2 separate regions of the Homo sapiens genome follow, and region 1 is linked to region 2. Evidence: fine-mapped expression QTL. Tissue or cell type: tibial artery. Region 2 holds a variant in brackets; the other region holds the start of a gene. All regions are shown on one strand. Distances are from middle to middle.

Region 1 (8,509 bases), 120 kb before region 2:
TCATTTGATATAATCCTTCCAAGAAGGTGTTGGATCTTTCTTATCCATGAGGACACTGAAGCTCACAGGCACTAAGCAACTTGCAGAAGGTCACATATCTAACGAGTGGCAGAGCTGGGTCTGTTTGCCCCATTATACTACATGCCTCCCTTCCTTTGCAAGATGTGAATCCATCCCAACAAAGATTACAGAATAAGAGTACAGGTAGTATCTGTCTAATAAAGTCTGAGACTAAAAAGCTAAAGACAGATCTTTCTTTTGTGAGACGTCACTGAAGGGGAAATGATTTAAAGGACTTCTACTGACAATGAAATTCTTCTAAATGACCAAAATAATAAATAGGTGAAGCGTCACTGCAACTTGATTCACACACTTCTGTCCCATGGAAAGTGACAGTTATGCTGCTCTTCCCTTTGGCATTACTGACTGCCAGAGCCAGACCCATCGTTCAAGGCCAGGTCCCAACTCCACCTGCTCCAGGAATCTCCAGATCTCCCTGCTGAGCATTTACATCTCCCTCCCCTGTCCCCCAGCATGAGTTTCTCCACGATGCTGTTAATATGAACACAGTCTGCCTGGTACGAGGGCTGCATGCCCTTGTGTGCCCCCATTAAGCAGCAGGGCTATAGGGTCTCGCTGACTATTAGATGGTTTGCATTTACAGGTTGAATTAATACATAATCTCAGGGAAAACGAGGCACCACATGGATTCCATTGTCTAAATTCACACATAAAAGCCACAAATATATTTTCTTTCAAAATCTGAACTAAGTAACCAGGCCAAAAGGATTTGGGTAAACACATTCTTTATCCTAAAGTGCACAAACTAAGATTGATACTGAAATATTTTGGTTTCTATTTATTTAATTTTATGTGATAAAAGTAGAGAGGGTATTTTGTTCCCGAATGACCAAAATGTGTTTTATTTTATCATTTCCATTTCAAAAAGTGAATGAGACTATGCTGTTTCCTTTTTATCAGTACAGCAAATAGTTGTTCAGATAACAGGAGAAAGTCTCCTAGGGCTTTCTATGTAACATAGAGATACAGTATTTGGTTCCTCCCAGCTCACAGCAGGGACCACATACTCTATAGCAAAATTTAGCACAAGGATTTATACAGTACCCTGGTAAGTAGTAAAACTGTATAAACAGGTAATGAAGGGACAATTCTGTAGAAAATCCCTCTGAATGCCATTAATAGCATTAACACTTTAAAAGCCTCCAAGGTTCCTCCAGGCATTGCAAAACCCTCTGATTTGGAATTTTGAGTTAACTAAAAAATTCAGTCACTAATTTGGTTGCAGGTTGTTTTCCAGAAGCTTTGTAAATTCAGCTTTAGAATTCAGAACATTTCCATGGAATGAATATCACCGGTGACGGTTTGTGCTAAGGCTTAAGCCAATAACATTTCCCAACCACCACTGAAAACTGTTAGCAAAGGTGAAAAATGCAGTTGGAGTTCCAAGTAGGGGCTTCTGCACAGCAGTAGTGTCCTGCGGCTGGAGCCAGGCTGCAGTAGTGAGAGCAGTCGGGAGGGAAGAGGGGCAGCTGCTTAAGATGCTAACTGTAGGGAGGGAAAACAGGCAGAGAGGAAGGCCAACTGAGGAGATGCAGTGGGCAAGACTTTCCTTCTTCCTCCCGCTTTGGAGCCTCCCATCAGACTGTGGCAGAGCCACCTGAGGGATGGTGGTGTGTGGATACTGGGTAGACTTTGGTTCCAGACCTGACATGGGCACTCACCATCAGTGTAGTCATGAATAAATCCCTCACTTCTCAGAGCAACAGTTTCCTCAACTGTAAAATGACTGCTCTGGTCCTTTTTAACCAGGAATCTCATTTATTCCTGGGGTGGGCAGGAGAAGAGTGCACACCTCAGGCCGAGGCTGATGGAAAAGCTCCCAGGCCCTCCAGTACAGCAGCAAGAGATTGTTCAGTCCATAGGACCACCCTGAGTCGGCTGGCATCCCCCAAGCTGTAGCCCTGCGCTCTGCTGTTTGCAGATCAGGAGCTGTGCTCATTTAAATAACAGCAGCCTTATAAAGTTCAAGAACTTACAGTTAACAAAGGCTTATGTTTAAAAAGCAGATGAATCATAAATATATTCCCATGTGTCCCTCAAATATTAGATTGAATATATTTAGGAGGTAAGCATTCCTCCCAAAATCTAATTTTTACCATATGGAAGTAAAGTGTTTACTAAGGTAAACTTCAGGCCTGTATCAGAGAAATTACTTACTAATTCTCAATTGGTGAAATCTGAATTGACAAGTTTGACCAGAACTGTAATCATTATTTCATGTTATGAAATTCCTTCATCTTTCTCTCCCCCCACCCCCATACATATCCACACATGCATGCACGTATGCATGCAAGTTCTCCTTGCTGGTTTGGCAACTACTGTCATGAAGTTCATTTTGAAAAACAAGAACATTCACTTAAAAGATGCATCGTTATCTAGAAGTTGCATTCCTAATGCTGTAAAAGGCCTGGCACAAGCTAAAACAAAACAGAACAGCAAAATACCTTTTGTTTTAGCTAGTGCTACTTTTGTACTTTTATGTAATTAGCATTAAAATAATTTCCACAGCAGCTATTCTCTATTTCATAAGATCTCTACCAAGCCTCCTAGAACATTTCAAAAACCAAAAACTTGCCAAGAATATGGTGAAAACCATCAAGGAAGTCATAACCTTTAGATTGAACATGCTGAATTATCGCCTCCTGGGGACAGCTGCCAGTCAGAGTTGAGGCACCAAGAAGCAGAGCCACACCAGACCCAGAGGGTGCAGACAGCAGAGTATTTCTGCTCTGCCAGGCTCAGTGAGTCACGCATTTGGCCTCCTCCACTAAGATCATGTATTCTACCAGATTTCGATTCATGGAGTCCAAAGATGAATGAATCAAACACTGCTTAAGGGCAATGTATACATTGGGATTCCTCCCCACCTCTTCCCTAAGGTGTTAGACATTGTTCACAGTCTAGACAGCAACAGAAAAAGACATCAATGTTTAGATGAGATTAATTAATCTATCATGACCCAAAGCACACTTCAGTGCCTACTCAAGATGGTTCATCTCTCCACAGTTTATACTCCACTTAGGAACTCTCCCATCATTTCCAAAAACAATTAAAACAATTAAAATGTTCTATCAGTTTAAGGTCTGGAAATGTTGCAGGCCTAATAGAGTATGACACCGGCCAGCGAATTGCCAAGAATCCCTTCTTCTTCGTCATCTGTTAAATAATTTCATCCAGTAATCAGCTTTAAAGACATTCTTGTTCAGCATAGGACAGTAGAAACATCAAAGACCTTAATTTTCTTTTTCTGTACCCAGCTTACCTTATTTGAACAGTGTAGACTTGATTGACGGGTTTGGGTTCCCACTCCAAAATTGTCTTGAAATTAGTTGATTTCCAAGTTAAATTATATGCTGCCACAGTATTTGTAGTGCCTTTAAACAACAGAGAAACAGCTATTATTACATGCACTTCAGAGCACTCGAATGTATTGATGTATAAAACACCTTCCCACCTGACATCACCATAAACCTCACTTTTTATTTTTCAACCACAAAAGCTTCATTAGTGAATTATCAAGAGAAAAAGAATCTTCAAATTTTTTCTAGACCTAGAATTTCTTCATGACAAGATTCACCTTGTAATCCCAGGACACCGGCAAGGATCTTGACATTTTCGTTTGAAATTATTCATGGGCAAAGCCTTGTTATAACTTGACCGGGAAGAGCCCAGAGCCATCAGTGTGCCAGTCCAGGACTCAGCTCAGGAAGAGTCAGGTTCAGCCCGCCAGGAAGGGTTTTCAGTAAGTTATGGAAAAAGATAAATCCCACACGTGTGACAAGAGTTAGGACTGCATACAAATGAAAAAAGCCAAACTTCACTTTTTCCACTTTTATCTGAAATGTCGCTACACTGAAACTTCCACAGAGACCCACGGGGACGTGTGGCCTGTCACACCGTCGGCTGTATTGGATCAGGATTATTTCTTATGAAGGTCTGCTTTGCCAGTACGCAGCAGGTCCCAGTCTCTACGCCGTCCCGAACACCTCGTAGAAATACGGGGCATGCACAACGTTGTACCTGCTCCAATCTAAGCAGCAATCCAGCCCTTTTGGATTGCCTCTACCCAAACCTAGAACAAAGATGGCCAGGAAAAGACCAGGGACGCTCTTTATTAAGGGAAGATGCACATATAATGAAAGATAATATCCAAACCTCTGCACGCCAACACGTGCAGACGCAGGCACAAGTCCTATCATATTGAAGGTCGCAACTCACTGGGAAGCCCTTTCCCCAGAGTTAAAGCGGGAGCTAAAAGTCCGCTTATGCAACAACAGTCCAATTACTCGGACACCCCGAGCAAAACTCTCCAGCGGAAGGGGCAGCGGGGTCTGGGGCGCCAACTCCCTCCCTGCAACTCCCGCCGGCGCCCGACGGACTCGGTTCATTCAAGCCGGGCTGGGTGAGCGCAGCCGAGTCCCGTAGGCGCGGGGGACAACATGGGCGCCCCGGGGAACCAGGGCGAGCCCGCTGCCAGCCAGGACTGTCGCCTCCCTCCTGCGTGTGGCGCGCCCCGGGCTTCCAGGGGCTGGTGCCACTCACCTGAAGCGCCGGCCACCTGGGCGAAGACCCAGCCGAGCAGGAGCGTCCGAGCGACGGCGGTCTCGGGGCGCGGGACCCGGGGCCAGGCAGGGGTCTCCATGTCTACCAGTTGGCGGCGAGATCGAGCGGGTTCCGTGGCGCCCGTGGGGCTGGGGAGGTTGGGCTGAAGGCGCCCTGGGCCGGCCAGAGGGAGTGCGAGGGGGTGCGGGGAGCTCGCAGTCTTGGGGAGCCGGTGCCCCGCGCGCTATAAAGGGCCGGCGGCGCGCTCTCCCGCGCCTCTGCCCGCCCCCGGCGCCCGCCCCCGCCGCTCCTCCCGACTCCCCGCCCCCGGCCCGGGTCACTTGCCGTCGCGGTGGGCGGCCCCCGGCGAGTCCACACCCCTGCCCCGCCTCCTCCCGGTAGGAAACTCCGGGACCCTGCAAGGGATGACTCACCCCAGTGATTCAACCGCGCCACCGAGCGCGGAGCTGCCCTGGAGGACGCAGGCGGGTCTAGTTGCCCGGGTCCCCCAAGGCCCCCGGATTCACCCAGGCCCGCGACTCCGACGTGCAGCTTAGGTGGGTTGCAGGTCTATGGCAGGAAAGGGAGGGCGCCTTGGAAGAATTCTTCCCTTCCATTTGGTGATAAAGTGGGAGAGGCGGCATTTACAACATTTAATAGAAAGCACGGGCTCTGGGCTCCCCTCGGGCAGCGGAGGGCATTTCCCGGATGCTTTGCCCACCTGGGGCAGAAGCTCGGGACCTGCAGCGAAGTAAACGTGTGGCTGTGAGCAGGGCCCTCTCCCAGCCACGGTGGCTTCTTCTACCCCACGAAGGTCAAGAATACCTGGCCTGCCCACCTCGCGGGGCCCTTAGCGGGTCGCACAGGAGAAAGGCGGTGGGAATGCCGGTGTCAGCCACGGTGTGACCGGCTCGGCTCACAGGTCTGAGGGTCAGTTGGCTCAGGCATCGCCCGGTACGACCAGAGATAGTGACTGAGGAAGAGCAGCCTCACATCTGGCAGTTTGCCTCTGGGAGAATTCCAGCGTGACATCTGCAGCTCTGTGGTTCCAGAAAGGATGGTTCCCACATTGAAGAAGACATCTGTGGGACTGAGTTCCACCGAAATGCAGAGGAACCAAAAATGAAAATGAAAAATGTAACCAGAGTTGTGTGCCACTAGTTTTAAGCTTTGGTTTTTCTAAATTATTTTCTGGCTTCTCCTTCTGGGCTTTGCTGTAAACTTGCCAAGCATGAGAACAACTCTTCATCTATTGAGTGGCATTTTAAGCCATCCTGTCAAAGTATCTCCTGTCATTTTTATTATTATTACTCTATATTGCCTGCAAGACACGACTGGAGAATTCTTAGTGTAAGAATTGTTTGTTTCCTCTCTCCTTCTTTCCCACGTTTTCCCAGGGAAGTCAGTCTTGCATTTTAATGCATACTATATACATATCTCGTTTAGCTTACTGAACCACTTGTTTTAACAGAATAAAACTGTGCAAAATTTTAATTTTCCTCCTTTGCCTGAACTGAAATAGCACATCCAGGTTTAGCCCTTGTAGACTTTCCTTCCTCGAAGCAGAAAGTTGCCCTTGATGATTTCCTCTTTGAGCTCTCTGCCAGCTCTGAAACCCACAAAATTTATGTTTGCAAAACTAAGCCATGCAATCCTCTTTTTATGCAGGCTCTAGCCTGAGTCATTTTCCCTAAGAGATCTTCAGCTCCACCTGGGATGTGATTCTTTGCTCTCTGGGATTGAAGGTAGCTGAAGAGAAATAGTTACACTTCAGGTTTGTTACAAGACCCAAGAAATTGTTGCAATTCCACTTGGAGTCACTGACTTTTCTGAAATCATATAGGGCTTTAAACAATGTCAAGATCAGCCATTTGATAAGAAAAATGTTTACCATTGGATTGTGATACACAATGTGCCTTAAATATTGATAAATTAGATGAATATTTATTTTGTATATCCATTAAAATAGACAGGAAAGAGAAGATGTTGGGTGTTTGCACAGGCTTTTTAGTCAGTACGGAATGACATTCTTCAAGATTTAAAAATGCTAAAATCATTACTATTTTCAAGAAGAGGGAGGAAGAAAACGTGGTAAATAATATTTCATTGCGAAGTGTTTTTCCCTGACTGATCTAATTGTGGCCAGATCTACTTTTTGACGGTGCGAAGTGTACTTTTTAATGGTGCCAAACAGCAGTTGATCTATAATAACTGCTGCTTGGCACCATTAAAAAGTACATATCTAAAATTTCACTGTTGAAATTTGTTCACAAGAACAAATTGACTGTTAAAATTATTCCCTAACCTTAACACAATTTTTTTTACTCCTGTCAGTAAAGTCAAGCTTAGCAGTTAACAGTTCCCTCCTCCATGATCTATCTTGGAGGCTCTGAGAAGTTCAAAAAGTTACTAAACTATAACAATAATCTCTCTGGCTTGACCAGTCCCTTTCTCATTGGATTTTAGGATGTCAGAGGATGGGAGAACCTCACAGACATTCTTTTATGGATGAGAACCCTGTGGCCAGCTGATCTGAGTAAACTGGCTTGCCTAACCACACAGTGCAGATCTGGTCTTCTGACCCCGGGGGCTTTCCTTCCATCACCAGGCTTTCTCCTACTCCCAATGAAGGAAAGTAAGACTGGGTGGTAAATCCATCAAATGAATGATTAATTAATCCATCCATAAGCACTCAAAAATGTTCTGCATGTACACAAAGTGCAGAAAAGTGCAAAACTGCACAAAAACTGCACACAAAGTATAGAAAATACTTTGCAGTTTGGGGAACTCATTGTTCTTAGGCAGAAATATCCTGATGGTTAGTCCTTGAAATAGACAGACAAGGAGACACGTAGAAGAGTTTGAATTCCCTTTGCATAACCAGTGATGAAATGTGGTTGATGAGAAGTCTGAAAATAACTGCGGAGATGTTTCAGCCCTTCCACTGTACTTTTATAGTACTTGCTGCCAATTTTACCGACTCATTTTCATTGAGAACTTCACTTAATCTCACTTGTGTGTTTACCTGTTAATCTTTCCTGTTGGATTGGGTTTTTTGTCTGTTTTTTTCCTCTCTCAACCCTTTCCACAATTATCAGCACATAATAGGCACTTAATACCTTTTGAGTCAATGAATACTTTATAAAACTATGAGTGCAACCAAATATTTCACTGGTGTTCAAGAGATGAAATCTGTCACTGAAAACTCTTTCTAGGGGCCAGGCAGTGAGTGTTTCATGATGCTGAGATTGGTAAGAAAATACAAATCCATCATGACTGGAAAGGCACCACTCGACCGCAAGTTCTAGCAGTCTAACCAGTGATTAGCTATCTCTGCACCACCAGAAAATCTCACCAGGAGGAGAGATAGCTGAGAAGCAGAAACCAGATACAGAAGTTTGGAAACTAGCTAGCATTTTTTTAAAAGACTGGATTCTACGATGATTCAGAATATACTTCATCATGCGATGAGGTTGTTGATAGTTTTCCTTGCATACAGAGGCTGAATAACTTTTTAAAACAAATTCCTCAAAATGTTTATTTCCCAGGAAAGAGATAGGTTAAGATACATGATAGCAAGTAAAATTGAGAATAATTCAGAGAAACTTATTTTATGCATATGAAATGGTAAAAAGAGCAATGAAACCATTACCCAAAATTCAGGTAAAAGGCAAAGTATGAGAAAAGGCCAGAGGGAATTAGGAGTTAGTAGGAACACAGAGTTCTGGAGGAAAAGGAAAAAAGTGACTCAGCAGAACCTAAGAAACATCTGGCTGGGTATAGTTAGTCATGGAAAAATTGGCAGTCATGATTATGCATTTTGTGAAAATAGCAATATACTAGTCCAACAGTTCATTTAGACCAAAATTAAACAGTTGAAAGTCAG
Region 2 (8,509 bases):
AGGTCAGGACAGCGAGACCATCCTGGCTAACACGGTGAAACCCTGTCTCTACTAAAAAATACAAAAAATTAGCCGGGCATGGTGGCGGGTGCCTGTAGTCCTAGCTACTTGGGAGGCTGAGGCAGGAGAATGGTGTGAACCCGGGAGGCGGAGCTTGCAGTGAGCCGAGACAGCACCATTGCACTCCAGCCTGGGCAACAGAGCAAGACTCCGCCTCAAAAAAAAAAATACAAAAATTAGCTGGGCTTGGTGGCATGTGTCTGTAATCCCAGCTATTCAGGAGGCTGAGGCAGGAGAATTGCTTCAACCCGGGAGGTGGAGGTTGCAGTGAGCCGAGATGGCACCACTGCACTCTGGCCTGGGCAACAGAGCAAGACTCTGTCTCAAAAAAACAAAAACCAAACAAACCTAACCCACTTTCCATCAATCCATCAATCAGCTTTCAACGAGCACCCCTTTAATGCTCCGCACTTTTGCACTTGGGCTGAGCCCTGCAGGGTCACACATGAAGTGGAAGCCATAGTACCTGCCTGTGAGGATGTGGTCTTGGTGAGGAGGCCAGACCAACACCCATGAACGCATCACAAACCACAAAAGACCATAGAAAAGCAAGCATCAGACTGTGCATGGAGTGCAAGCTGGTGCAGTGGGAGTCCCAAGGACAGGAGGTGGACAGGACAAGGGCTTCAGCACAGAGGTGAGGCTTGAGCTTTAGAGATCCCAGGGGTGGCCTTGAGATCTACATGCTCCTTTGAGTGTAAAGGGCTGATCGTTCTGAGAGGAGGAAAGGCATCACCCCTCACTTTCTGGGTCCCCTGCTCCTTGCAGGACCACCTGCACAACACCACGGTGCTCAAGGGCTATCAGTGAAGGAAAAGGGAAGAAAGGAACAAATGGCCTGTGGCGGGGTAAAAAACAACTCCAGCTCTTCCTACCAGGCCAACTTTTGTGACTGGCTCCCAGGCTGCCTTGCCTCTGGGGTTCAAGGGAGGCTTGTCTTCTGAGAGTCGGTAGGATTAGACAAAAACTCCAGCTCTGTTCCAAGGGTCTATCAATATCCTCATAGCTGGGTATGTTAAGTGCTGGTATATTTACCCTGTTTAATCATGGTTCCATCCCTCTGAGGAAAAAGCTGATTACAGCCACTTGGGGAGAGAGAAATAACAGTGACCTTCTGCAGAACCAGCGATAACTTATTCCTTGTAAGGAGTGGATAAACAAAATGCCCCACACTCATCACTCAGGAATGTGCACCTCTTTGTGTGTTCTTCCTAACAGTACCTAGTAATTGGGCTCAACACCTCAGTGCAGCATTTCCTGTCATCTCTGGGACAGCAGAGTGGAGGTGACCTCCCTTCCCACTCATTGGAGAGAACATTAATTGCTAGAGGTAATCCTAACCATAAAGTTTCTGGATCAGAGTTGCAATTGCATTGAATAGGAATAAAAGGCTGTTAAAAGGAAGATTTCTATTATCTGAGAAATCAAACTTTCTAGCAGCTTTAACACCTATTCACAATGGGTTTTTATTCAATCCCCATTAAAAGAAGTCAAAAGTTACAGGAATCAAAGCCAAAGTCCCTCCAGAAGCTAACATAGTAATAAAACCATCAGTAATTTTAATGATTGTTTACATATAGTGCCTCCTCTAGGTCAGGCACTTTACTTATGATCTGTTAATTCCTGTATTAACCTAGTAATTATACCCAATTTTATAAGAGCAAATATTAAAGCTCAAGGAGAGATTACGTCATTTGCCAGAGTTCACACAGCTAACAAGTGGAAAAACAGATTTGAACCTGTTTTCCTGACTCCAAAGCCAGCAAAGTTCTTTCAACTGGAGCCAGAAATACCCTAATGCCCATGGGTGACCAGGGTCCCTTCTGGGCCATGTGGTGTGGAGAATGAGTTTGACCACCCCAAATTGTCTTGTTCCTCAAGAGGATTTCCCAGACCTTCAAGGAATAAAATAATGTTGTGTTTTCTCCTAAACTGGTTTTCATCCAAATCTTGTGTTGCTCAGAAAAACATGGAGCCAGAAAGCCAAATTCCAGAGTCCTCTCTGTGGTCATCCCGGGAGGGGCCCAGGCAGCAGGGATATCCTAGGCCTATTCATGAGATGCTCCAGGTTTAGCCTCCCTCTCCCCGGTTGGCCTGGCAGCCTGTTCACTGGCTGCTCTCATAAGCCACCCAGGCTGCGTCCCTCCAGCTCCCATCGCTAGTCAGCTGGGCCAGACCCCACCCCTGTATTCAGTGTGGTTGCCAGACATGCAGCCCCACCATGATCCCCATTCTTCATTCAACCAATATTATGTACCCATTATACATGCAAGGTACAGTCATAAGCTCTTGGGGGACAAGACAGAGATAATCCATGATCTCTGTGAGTGGTCATTCAGGAATATGGAGTGAATGCTCAACCAGTTACTCAACTAATTGCTTAATTACAATTGTATAAATCCTTCAGAAGTTGCCAAGTTGCTAAGGGAGTGTGCAACTGGGGTGGGGATGGGGGGCTTGACTAGGACTGAGGGATGAGGAAAAGCCTCTCCTAGGAAGAAGACAAGAGGGCTGAGGCACACAGAAAGAGGGGTCAGTGGTACAAAATGAGGCCAGAATGGTCAGCAAGGCTCCATCTTGAGGGCCTTTATAGGGCTGGAATTTATCTTAGGAACAAGGAGACTCCATTGAAGGGTTCAGGTTGTGAATGATACATGTGTATGGATCAGGGAAGAAAAGAATGATATGTCTACCAAAAAATTCTGAATTGTGCTGAGAATTAACAACTGTCTTTTTAGCCTTTTGTCTCCCTAAAATAGTAAGTTTCCAGTAACTCACAGGTTGACAATTAAAGGGGTTGTAATAGATGTCCTTTTAAAAAAATAATTTTTTAATAGACAAGGTCTTGCCTGTTGCCCAGGCTGGAGTGCAGTGGCACAATCAAAGCTCTCTGCAGCCTCAAACTCCTGGGCTTAAGCAATCCTCCTGCCTCAGCCTCCTGAGTGGCCTGGACTAAAGGCATGAACCACCACACCCAGCTAATTTTATTTTTTGCAGAGACTTGTTCTCCCTGTGTTGCCCAGGCTGGTTTCAAACTACTAACCTCAAGCAATCCTCCTGTCTTAGCCTCCCAAAGTGCTGGGATTACAGGTGTGAGCCACCATGCCCGGTCCAATAAGTGTTCATGATAATGTGGATTTGTTCTTGACAATCAGGACTCAAGCCCAGGCAATCTTCTGCAAGTCAGAGTATTCACCCACCCCTGCATCAGTCTGAATCTGGAAAACTCTTCTGGCACAGCCACGTTTCAGTGAGTAGGCCCACCCTGCCCCATTCAGAGGGGTGGATTGGAAGAGGCACTTAGGGCCAGTCTGGAGGAAAGAGACAAGGCAAAGAGTAGGATGGTGCCGGGACCTCAAGGACCGATTCCTTTTATCAGCGTTGTCCACATGGGTTGCTCTTCTGGGCCCTAGGAAAGCATTAGAGACCCCCAGACATGATTCTCAGAGTCTGCCCTGACATGTCACCCCAGAAGATCGAGGTCTTTGGTCCTTGAGCCCTTTACTTTGAACACGAGAAGTGTTTGCTCGTGGGATCTACACAAGTCTTTTTTTTTTTTTGGAGATGGAGTCTCGCTCTGTCACCTAGGCTGGAGTGCAATGGCACAATCTCAGCTCACTGCAAACTCCGCCTCCCCGTTCAAGCGATTGTCCTGCTTCAGCCTCCCAAGTAGCTGGGATTACCGATGCCCGCCACCAGGCCCGGCTAATTTTTGTATTTTTAGTAGAGATGGGGCTTCACCAGGCTGACCAGGCTGGTCTTGAACTCCTGACCTCAGGTGATCCACCCCCTCTGGCCTCCCAAAGTGCTGGGATTACAGGCATGAGCCACCATGCCCAACCTCAAGTCTTTTCTGATCCTAACATTCTGGGACCTAATCACTTCAAAGGAGACATGCCATTTCCAGCTGAGGCCCCAAGAGGAATGTTTTATGGTGGACAACTCTGAGGGCTGGCATGGGGCCTGGAGAGGGAATGGAAAGGAAGAAGGGAGCTGATGGGAGGTCCACAAGGACTTTTGTTGAATGGTGGGGAGGGGGCAAGGCAGAAAGCAACTTATGGCATGATTCTACCCAGAGACAGCCCAGCCTTTGAAAACTTGCCTCGCCCAGAGTGAGAAAGATTTAAACAACACACACACACCCACACACACACCCACATACGCCCCCCCATCATACATATATTCCATGCATTTCTTAATTAAGGGAATGCTAACATTTCTTTAAAGTACAGTTCTTAAAATGATATTTGGAGACCACATTCTTTAACTTGTGAGAATATACCTCCAACCTCTTAATAAAATTGTGATTAAAAAAAACTTTCTCTAATTGTGGCTAAATTTGATGTCATTGATTAAAATGTATGCCAATTTGCAACATTAATAACCTTGTTGCTATGCCTGTTCTACCAAAACCCTTTTCCTAGTATTTCTTACATCACCACACATCTGAAAAAGTTTCTTTCATGCGCGTCCGTGTGAAGAGACCACCAAACAGGCTTTGTGTGAGCAACATGGCTGTTTATTTCACCTGGGTGCAGGCGGGCTGAGTCCGAAAAGAGAGTCAGCGAAGGGAGATAGGGGTGGGGCCGTTTTATAGGATTTGGGAAGGTAATGGAAAATTACAGTCAAAGGGGGTTGTTCTCTGGTGGGCAGGGGCGGGGGTCACAAGGTGCTCAGTGGGGGAGCTTCTGAGCCAGGAGAAGGAAATTCACAGGGTTAATCACTCAGTGAAGGTGGGGCAGGAACAAATCACAATGGTGGAATGTCATCAGTTAAGGTGGGGCAGGGCCTTTTCACTTCTTTTGTGATTCTTCAGTTACTTCAGGCCATCTGGGCATATACGTGCAAGTCACAGGGGATGCGATGGCTTGGCTTGTGCTCAGAGGCCTGACAGTTTCCACTGGGCTTCTCCCCTCCAAAGAGTTCCTGGGATGGCCTTGGGATCCACGTGGTGGGAATCAGCCCACAGGTGGGGGAGGGGAAGGTGCTCTTCACCTGTGTTGCATCAGCAGCGTGAGCTGCTGCTATCAAGTGTTGAAAAGAATGTGAGACAAAAAGAGATAATATTTGAAATGGAAAGAAAATAGTATTACTAAGCCAAGTGATCAAATATTGCCAATTTTGCTTGCCAGCTATCATGAACTGATAACAAATTAGCAAA[A/G]GGCCAAACTTACATGCACGAAGTTGTCCTAAGCAGTGGCCAGATCCAGACATAACACATATCTCTAGATATCATTCATGGCTTACAAGCTTTGTAGTCTTTGCCCTGTGATGAGGCTATCCTCCCAGCGGGGTAGGAGGAAATGATTCCTTGTGCTCTAGCTGGTTGTAGTGGCTTATACTCTGGCCAGGAGGTCAGAAAACTGTCACAGAACCAACTCTACTCATTATTTGCTGTGTGCTTTGGCCAAGTCTCCTAACTCATTGGAGTCTGTATTTCTTTATCTCTGAAATGACAGCAACACTCAACACACGTTGACTGAGGACAGACTGTATGCTAGTCTGAACTATGTGTGAGTGAACACATAGTCATCACTTCCATGAGAGTGGAATAGTCGATATAAAACTCAGTACCACATGTGAGTGACTCCAAATATTACAGCATCCTCATTTGCTAAATGAACTCTTAAGAAAAGGTTTTTACTTTTATATTTGTTGATATTAAAATATATCAGGATGTTAATTAAATAGACAAATGTCTGTGCATAATAATGTGTTATTTTAATTACTTATAGGTAAAATCACATGCTATTCATTAATTTGTAAATCTTGATTAAAATGTTGAGTTTTCATTATATATTTAAAAATCACAGCCAGGCACAGTGGCTCACGCCTGTAATCCCAGAACTTTGGGAGGCCAAAGAGGGCAGGTCACCTGAGGTCAGGAGGTCAAGACCAGCCTGGCCAACATGGTGAAACCCCGTCTCTACTAAAAATATTTTTTTAAAAATTAGCCAGACATGGTGGTGGGGACCTGTAATCCCAGCTACTCAGGAGGCTGAGGCAGAAGAATTGCTTGAACCCAGGAGATGGAGGTTGCAGTGAGTTGACACGGTGCCACTGCACTCCAGTCTGGGTGAGATAGTGAGACTCCGTCCCAAAAAAAAAAAAAAAAAAAAAAAAAAAAATCACATCATGTTTATAATGCAGAAATACTGCCTTTACCCACTCACAATGCAATACTTTTAATCAAATTCTTCCAGTGCACTTTTGATATCAGTGTTTTGACATTCCCTATGGCCAGTCTTCAAGCCCATTTTTCAGAGCACAGCATCTTCATATTCATCTGGATTGCTTGAGATTCAGCACTTCTTGAATCTAAATATGATGTTGTCATTGAAAATTATACCTCATGCCATGATAGTTTTTTCCCTATTTGTGATCTCATAAGATAACTGTCACGCCTCTGAGCCCAAGCTAAGTCATCATATCCCCAATGACCTGCATGTATACATCCAGATGGCCTGAAGCAACTGAAGATCCACAAAAGAAGTGAAAATAGCCTTAACTGATGACATTCCACCATTGTGATTTGTTTCTGCCCCACCCTAACTGATCAATGTACTTTGTAATCTCCCCCACCCTTAAGAAGGTTCTTTGCAATTCTCCCCACCCTTAAGAAGGTTCTTTGCAATTCTCCCCACCCTTAAGAAGGTTCTTTGTAATTCTCCCCACCCTTGAGAATGTACTTTGTGAGATCCACGCCCTGACCCCAAAACATTGCTCCTAACTCCACCGCCTATCCCAAAACCTATAAGAACCGATGATAATCCCACCACCCTTTGCTGACTCTCTTTTCGGACTCAGCCTGCCTGCACCCAGGTGAAATAAACAGCATTTTTGCTCACACAAAGCCTGTTTCTATGCAGCCACAAAAATTGATGAGTTCATGTCCTTTGTAGGGACATGGATGAAGCTGGAAACCATCATTCTCAGCAAACTATCTCAAGGACAAAAACCCAAACACCGCTTGTTCTCGCTCATAGGTGGGAATTGAACAATAAGAACACATGGACACAGGAAGGGGAACATCACACACCGGGGACTGTTGTGGGGTGGGGGGAGGGGGGAGGGATAGCATTAGGAGATGTACCTAATGCTAAATGACGAGTTAATGGGTGCAGCACACTAACATGGCACATGTATACATATGTAACAAACCTGCATGTTGTGCACATGTACCCTAAAACTTAAAGTATAATAATAATAAAATAAAATTAAAAAAGAAAAGCCTGTTTGGTGGTCTCTTCACATGGACACGTGAGACAATAACCACATATCCTTCAAGTATGGTATATTAATAATGTTGACTTTCAACATGATCTTTATATGGTTTGTTTACTGTGACCTCCAACACTCAACAATTGAGAGGTCAGAGCCTCAGGAATAATTGCCAAACGTGTCAGATTTCTTTGCCACTTTTTTTCCTGTATTACCAGTAGTCTTCCATAAGATCCCACATTAGCATTACTTTAGATGGCTTAAGACTAACATATGTTCATCAAAAACAAGGTTGGTGTCTGAAATAAAGTGATTGAATGCTTTGTGTTCTGTAAAGACTCTACTATAAGATGACTCCAACAGATAATTTTGAGGAGAAAAGGCATAATTATATGTGATAATTATAATAAAGGCTAGAGGGCATTAATAGCTCCAGATGAAAAGTGTTCAGAGATAAGAGAGAGTATAGACTAGCTATATGTTTAATCATTGAGTTGTTCATTTTTCTTAACCTCTTTACCTAGAAAATAAGGCCAATCAACAATACCTCAGAATGTTGCTAGGAGGAGTAAATGAGGTTATAAATTCTAGCATAGTGCCTGGCTTGAAGGTGTACTTAGGGTGAGGGCCATCATTCCCTGAGTTCTTCCAGCTCTGCTCCCACTTGTGACTTTATGGGATGTTAAAGGAAAAGGAACAGGGGCAGGACAAGACAGGAACAAAGTATCTTTGCCCATTGTTCAGCTGAGACAGATTAGAGTTTTTCCAAAGGTGCTTTCCCAAGAACCAAAGGAAAACTAAGACCTAAAGACACAAAGACTGTAGTTACAGAGCCCCTCCCCAGATCTCAGTGTCATTGTTCCTTTCTGCATCCTTCAGTCCTGTGGCATTTTCCTCTGCTAGTCTCACTTGTACATGCAGCCACTATGGAATGCTGGGGCCATGTGAGAGGAGGGGATTTGCATAACAGTAGAAAACCACTGGGATTTGGAGTAGGGTGAACTGACTTTAAGTCAGCCTCTACCTTTCACTGGCTTTAAGATTTTGCAAATGTCCATTTGCCTCTCCAAGTCCCAGTTTCTTTATCCTTATGTAAACAAAAAAGTGAGACAGATCTCAATCAATTTATTTTGTCAAGGTTAAGGACATTTGCAGAAGAAATAAAGACAGAGTCACAGAAAGAGGAGAAAGGCCTGTGCCTTTCTCCAAAGATGATTTTGAGGGCTTC

Direction of the effects. Positions count from the first base shown, and alleles are read on the strand shown. Sizes are in standard deviations (SD) of each study's normalised expression.
In carriers of allele A in region 2, the expression in tibial artery of the gene that starts at base 4,846 in region 1 tends to be higher than with G alone (small effect, 0.30 SD a copy in GTEx).

Evidence for each region. PIP is the estimated chance that this variant, and not a neighbour inherited with it, causes the effect.
Region 1: F3 starts here. The variant in region 2 is fine-mapped to the expression of F3 in tibial artery (GTEx, PIP 0.99).

The regions. Positions count from the first base shown.
Region 1 is chr1:94,536,914-94,545,422 of GRCh38, forward strand. It overlaps F3 (coagulation factor III, tissue factor), which reads right to left and starts at 4,846. Exons shown (of 6, transcript NM_001993.5): 1 at 4,624-4,846; 2 at 3,344-3,455. The coding sequence starts at 4,723. MIR12133 (microRNA 12133) reads left to right here and starts at 6,789; the gene lies at 6,789-6,866. It overlaps LOC124904223 (a long non-coding RNA gene), which reads left to right and starts at 5,061. Exons shown (of 2, transcript XR_007066234.1): 1 at 5,061-8,509. RefSeq lists a silencer at 4,766-5,045.
Region 2 is chr1:94,652,972-94,661,480 of GRCh38, forward strand. All of the region lies in intron 3 of SLC44A3-AS1 (SLC44A3 antisense RNA 1), which reads right to left. Among named protein-coding and RNA genes, the nearest start is that of MIR378G, 89 kb to the right of the region's middle. RefSeq lists enhancers at 6,336-6,854, 8,332-8,509. The variant A/G (reference allele first, on the strand shown) is at 5,222.